Linked DNA regions of Homo sapiens. The protein of the gene in region 2 interacts with the protein of the main gene of each other region in a biochemical or structural test. Each region holds a gene or a part of one and is shown on either strand. Other genes may lie near its edges.

Region 1 (2,763 bases), on a different chromosome or scaffold from region 2:
TTGGCTAAAAGATAGCTAATGAGGACTCTAGTCCTAACTCTGCTATCAAACTACATATGCACTTGGCCAAGTCACTTAATTTCCTAGACTAGCCTGGGGCTGAACAAGAGAAAAAATCATTAGTAAAAAAATCCTAAGGCCAGGCACGGTGGCCCACACCTGTAATCCCAGCACTTTGGGAGGCCAAGACAGGTGGATCACTTGAGGGCAGGAGTTCGAGACCAGCCTGGCCAACATGGTGAAACTCCATCTCTACTAAAAATACAAAAATTAGCTGGGCGTGGTGGTGCACACCTGCAATCTCAGCTACTCGAGAGGCTAAGACAGGAGAATTCCTTGAACCTGGGAGGTGGAGGTTGCAGCGACCAAGATTGTGCCACTGTACTCCAGCCTGGGCGATACAGCGAGACTCCATCTCAAAAAAGAAAAAAGAAAAAAAAAAAAAATTCGAGAAGCCCTGAAGCAGAAGAGGCCAAGGAGAAAGACAAAATAGCCTAAAACCTGACAAGTTAAGTCAAAACAATTTCAGGAAAATATAATAAGAATCTATTTATTTTATATTTAAGTTCATAAGTCACATCCACATTATGTTCCTGGTAAAAATTCTGAAAGGACACAGCAAAGAGCAGAAAGGGACACCTCCATAGAGTGTCTATGGACCCATTTTTGCTTTCCAACTCCTAATAGAAATGCCTGACCCAGCACCCTCTGGGAAAATCAACCTTTGATTCAAAGAGATGTTGTTCAGCAATGATTACAGTCACAGTCACAGCCACATGCCATCAGCCTATCAGGAAATCTGAGGGGAGGCAGACAACCAGAAGGAGAGTTGCTTCCTCTCTCACCAGGAAGCAACTCTAGCTCCAAACCAGATGGGTGATTCAGCGCCACATGGAGAAAGATAATTCAGCCATTGTGTTTTTAGGATTAAGAAGCACTCATTCACTCGCGGAAGCCTTTAAATGTCACTGGTGCCTGGAACCAAATGTAGTCTTCCCAAGCCGTGGTTCGGATGGAAGGTCTGCCACATGACAGGGTCACAGTCAGTTTATGGCCCCGGCTGGGCACTCGATAGTTGAGCTTGGGTCGAAACCAATCTTCTCCACAGTTGCGGTGTCCCTGTGCCATGACGACGGTGCCCATGAGTGGAGGAGCCTGAAGCTCGCTAAAGGCATCAGCCATGAATATGGCTCGGAAGAGACGGCGCAAACAAGCTGCTGTGCTCAGGCTCTGGTCCACGCTGTAGGGGGCCAGCAGAGACAAGTCGAGTTCATAGAACTCCTTGGGGCTTAGGGCATTGCCCCCAAGGAGAATCAGCACTCGCGGTACTAGTGTCCGTGCAAAGAAGTCCTCCAGGTGGCTGAGGACACTCTCCAGTTCTGCCAGGGCTTGTTGGCATTTCCTGCTGCTCACCTCAGTGGTGGCCCGAGGTTTCTTCTTCAGCATCTCCTCTGCCTGTGAGGACAAAGAATGGTGGGAGAGAAGAACAAGGCAGGGGGAAGCTAATGCTCTTTGAAAAGAACCCTGCTGGGATGTGTACATAGACTTACAGGACTTAATTTCTAGCTCAATGAACCGCCACAGCCAAAACACTGTGTTTTATCAGAGGGTATTATACTGAAAAGGAAAATATATTATTTGTACAAAACCATAATTCTCCCACATTTAGAACAGCAAACACAGTGTTCTGAAGGTGGAGGATATCCAGATATAAGCAACTAAAATAGAAATTTGGTGACATGACAAAGTGACAACAAATTTTTGCTGTATGGGGAGTGATAACAGGAATGAGGATTATTTGGTCTAATAAACATGACTTTGAACTTGTTCTTCCACTTAAACATAGTAAACTGAACACATGCTTATTTGCACTTCCACCTGAAATATTACAAAATGAGAGAAAAGAAATTAAGAAACAAATGAAGGAAAGAAGAGGAAAGACTGACAAAGAAAACTCCCAAGAGGAAAGAACTGGAAACTACACAACACTAGCCAAATGCAAACACAGAAGTTTTGGAAGATAGAAGATGAAGAGTTGGCTGGGCGCAGTGGCTTACGCCTGTAATCCCAGCACTTTGAGAGGCCGAGGCGGGCGGATCACAAGGTCAGGAGATCAAGACCATCCTGGCTAACATGGCGAAACCCTGTCTCTACTAAAAATACAAAAAATTAGCCGAGTGTGGTGGTGGATGCCTGTAGTCCCAGCTACTAGGGAGGCTGAGGCAGGAGAATAGCCTGAACCCAGGAGGCAGAGCTTGCAGTGAGCTGAGATCACGCCACTGCACTCTAGCCTGGGTGACAGAGCGAGACTCTGTCTCAAAAAAAAAAAAAGAAAGAAGATGAAGAGTTAAGAGTTCAAGAGAGCTGAATACCAAGTGCTGACAGAAGGGACCCCCAAGGGATGCAAACTGATCCACACAGCAGAACCCCAGAAAGGTTTAGGAAGTGGTGATACAGGCACCACAGAGGCAAGAGTGAATATAGGGGAAATGAATGAAAATCTGTGTGAAGATGCTTAGATCATCTGCCAAATTTCTCCCCCATCCAGAGGGAAGACTTTCCAATCCCCACAAAGAGATCACCAGGTTCCCACCTAATCTCCTTATAGTGAAGTCTATCAGCTCATAAGGCCCAGGCATGCACACACAGCTTGCAATGATTTATTCTTTTTTTTTTTTTTGAGACAGAGTTTCGCTCTTTCGCCCAGGCTGGAGTACAGTGGCGCAATCTCGGCTCACTGCAACCTCCGCCTCCCGGGTTCAC
Region 2 (3,661 bases):
TAACACGGCTGAGAGCAAGTTGCCTAACCTCTCTGTGCCATAGTTTCTCATCTGTAAAATGAAGATGGTAATAATGCTGCCCTCAAAAAACTGGTGTGGAGATTAAATAAATTAATCTACATAAGCACTTAGACTAATGCCTGGCACTTAGCACAGAAGCAGTCTGTAGGTTAGTGTCTGAGCACTTTTTACTCAGTGTTTCTGACAACAAAATGAGAGAAATTTTTTTCCTCCTGACACCAACCAATTTTGACACCAACGGGGTGTCCTACAATTCAATTCTGACACGAATTACAGATAGTTAGCGCAGACCTCACAGGATAAGGATGCAGTCCCACAAGACTGCCCTCGCGTCAAATGTCAGGTCTCTGGGTCCCCACATCTCTTGGGTAGCCATGCTTGTTGTCTGACTTGGCTATAAGGTTAAGGTCAAGAGTTCCCAGAACCTTCCTCCCTTTCAGGTTGGATAATTTTGCTAGAATGGCTCACAAAACTCCGGGAAACATATAATTTTTGTTTACCAGTGTGTTGTAAAGAATATGACTCAGGAACAGCCACATAGAAGTGCTATATCAGGCAGGGTATGGAGAGAAAGGTGCAAAGCTTCCATGCTCTCCCAGCACCTGGACATATTCACCACCCAGAAAGTTCTCTGAACCTCATTGTCCCAGTGTATTTCTGGCGGTTTCATTATGTAGACATGATTGATGAAGTCATTGGCCATTGGTGATTGAACTCAACCTCCAAGCCCCTCTCTCTTCCTTGGAGGCTGGCGGGTGGAGCTGAAGTTTCCAAACTTCTAATCAAGGCTTGGTCTTTTTGGTGGCCAGCCCCTATCCTAAAGCTATCTAGGTGCCAGCCAAGAGTTGCCTCATTAAAACAAAAGATGGTAGTCCTAGCACTTTGGGAGGGTGAGGTGGGCGGATCACTTGAGATCAGGAGTTCGAGACCTGACCAACATAGTGAAACCCTATCTCTACTAAAAATTAGCTGGGTGTGGTGGTGTGCACCTGTAGTCCTGTTACTCGGGACACTGAGGCAGGAGAATCGCTTGAATCCGGGAGGCAGAGTTTGCAATGAGCTGAGACTGCACCACTGCACTCCAACCTGGGCAACAGAATGAGACTCTGTCTTTAAAAAAAGAAAAAAAAAAATGTTCCTGTCACCTTTATCACTCAGGAAATTCCAAGGGTTTTGGAAGCTCTGTTCTAGGAACTAGAAACAAAGATCAATGTTTTTCTGTGATAACATAGCATCTGTCACCTTGAGAACTTAAAATGTTAATGTGATTGTAGTTCATTTTATCCAGCATGGCTTTATCTAAGGGAGGGCCTACAAAGCACAGTGGAAGAGGGTGGGCATTAGAGTCAGACTTGGGTTTGATTGACAGAACTAGATACTTAGTTATTTTCACACTGGGCAATTGCCTAAACCTGTTAAGCTTCATTTTTTTTTTCATCTGTAAATTGGAGAATATGGTGTTTACTTCATATGGCTATTGTAAGCAATAAAAAAAAAGGTATTTTAAACACCTAGCATAGCAGGTGTTAGTGCTAAATTATATATTACTTTCTCCTGATAAAGTAACCTTTTAAAAAGTAAAGAGCTTATTTATATAGAGCTAGTTTCCAGTCTCTTGTTTTAGAGACTTAAAAAACAGTACTGGACTGCTGTTGTTGTTTCACTGTGGCAAAGAATAGAAGAATGAATTTTATTTCATCATATATTTGATGGTTCCCAAATCATTCCTTGCTTCTTATAGCCAGCAGAAACCTACAGTTGGATTTTGGTGAGTCTAAGTTTGTAGTAAGTGAGATTGTTTTTAGTGAGCTGTCAGCGGGGGTTGATGAAAGGCAGAAGACCATGGTCGTTTTTAATGAGGTTGTGTGAAAATCCAATGAAGTGGTCAGTGAAAATTCTACCTCGAGATAAACTGTGCAGACTGGCTCTAACAGTAGATTATTTTCTTCTAATTATAAGTTTGCTATAGCTTCTTTTATTTTTGTTTCTGTTTTTGTTTGAAACCAGAAAGTCCTTTGCTGTTTCCTTATTATCCTCGAAAATCATTGCATTTTGTGAAAAGGCGGATGGAGAATATTATTGATCAGTGTTTGCAAAAGCCAGCAGTAAGTTTGAAAGAAATGCATGTCTTTGTGTAGGAGCAATAGTGTCTACAGTATGTGGCTCACTTATGTAAATGATCTTAATTTTTAGAATGAACTATGAAAATGTTGATAGTCAACTGTTTTTGATTAACAAAAGTAACAATTTCATATGGTTCAACCTAATACTCCAACTTAAGTTTCTTACACACGTGTGTGTGTGTGTGTGTGTGTATAAAGATTACTGAAGGTGTTGGCATCTTGAGTATTTTATTTGTTCCCAGAAGAAATTCATTGTAAACAGTCTTAGTTACAGAGCTGATGTGTCTCTGCTTACTACTGAAGGATGTGAATGAATGGTTGTTATGAGACCAGAGGGAGGTGGTCTTAAACCTGCCATGTGCTTAGCACCAAGGTCCTTTTCAGCTCAGAATTTTCTCTTTTTCCTTACTGTTACAATTGTCATTAACGTTTCTTATGTACAAGGTTTGGTGATGTAGGCGATTTTTTTACCACATTCGAACAGTGATGGTCAGTCACTTTCTGTAGAGTATCTGTGTGCATATTAACGCTCTAATTATATTTTAAAATCTTATTTTATATAGGATGTAATTGGAAAATCGATGAATCAAGCAATCTGTATTCCATTGTATAGAGATACCAGAAGGTAATTCTGTTTACCTATTGGATGGTGTAATTCCGCAGCCAATTTAAATTTTTCTCATTTCTTTTTCCCTTTTATTTTAGTGAGGATTCTACACGTAGATTGTTCAAATTTCCTTTTCTGTAAGTATATATTTCTTCCCTATCTTGAGTGAACAATACAATTTTGTTTTATCCATCAATAGTTAAAAAATATTATGACAATTTTTTTTCTTAGGTGGAATAATAAAACTTCAAATCTACATTATCTTCTTTTTACTATTCTAGAAGATTCACTTTATAAAATGTGCATCTTAAGGAGACATACTGATATTTCTCAGTAAGTATTAATCTGAAGTTTGAATCAAAGAGATAAGATTTTATTATTTGTAAGAATGAAGCATACAGCCTTCCAGCATTTCAGATTTTAAACTACTTTGTGACTTTTAGATGTGTCATTTAATTGTTAGTTTTCATGTCATTAAAAGGGTAACACTGAATTAGGAAGTTATATGATCTTGTTTTAGATTATTTAATTTTTATTGGCATATAATCATTGTAGGACTTTTTTTAGAGTTAGGAAAAATATGACAGCTCAGGATATTATACTTCATTTTTTAGAAGTTAAAAACTTCCGAAAAACTAAAAGTTAAAGAAGTTTTAACTTTTTAGAAGTTAAAAACTTCTAAAAGTGGCTGCCTTATAGAAATGATTTTTGCCTAGGGTTAAGTATGCTTTTCATTAAACAAGAGGCCTTGCCTAACAGAGACTTACTTTGAAATTGAAAGTAGAAGTTCTGAAAAATAAATCATATTTAGAACGCCATTGGTAGCTTAAAAATGGTTTTAAACCTGAATTTGAAGAAAATGTTGAGACCACGATGTAACCAAAAAGAAATAATTGGGTTATTTCTATTC

Evidence for each region. Proteins that work in one complex are often made in the same cells at the same time.
Region 1: the proteins of ANAPC4 (region 2) and MAD2L1BP form a complex in vitro, tested with the Homo sapiens proteins (one study listed by BioGRID).

The regions. Positions count from the first base shown.
Region 1 is NC_000006.12:43,638,713-43,641,475, reverse strand, and holds the end of MAD2L1BP (MAD2L1-binding protein), read right to left. Parts: intron 1,456-2,763; coding exon 943-1,455; 3' UTR 535-942; downstream 1-534. UniProt on the Homo sapiens protein: May function to silence the spindle checkpoint and allow mitosis to proceed through anaphase by binding MAD2L1 after it has become dissociated from the MAD2L1-CDC20 complex.
Region 2 is NC_000004.12:25,411,617-25,415,277, forward strand, and holds part of ANAPC4 (anaphase-promoting complex subunit 4), read left to right. Parts: intron 1-2,028; coding exon 2,029-2,126; intron 2,127-2,707; coding exon 2,708-2,769; intron 2,770-2,849; coding exon 2,850-2,888; intron 2,889-2,982; coding exon 2,983-3,084; intron 3,085-3,661. UniProt on the Homo sapiens protein: Component of the anaphase promoting complex/cyclosome (APC/C), a cell cycle-regulated E3 ubiquitin ligase that controls progression through mitosis and the G1 phase of the cell cycle.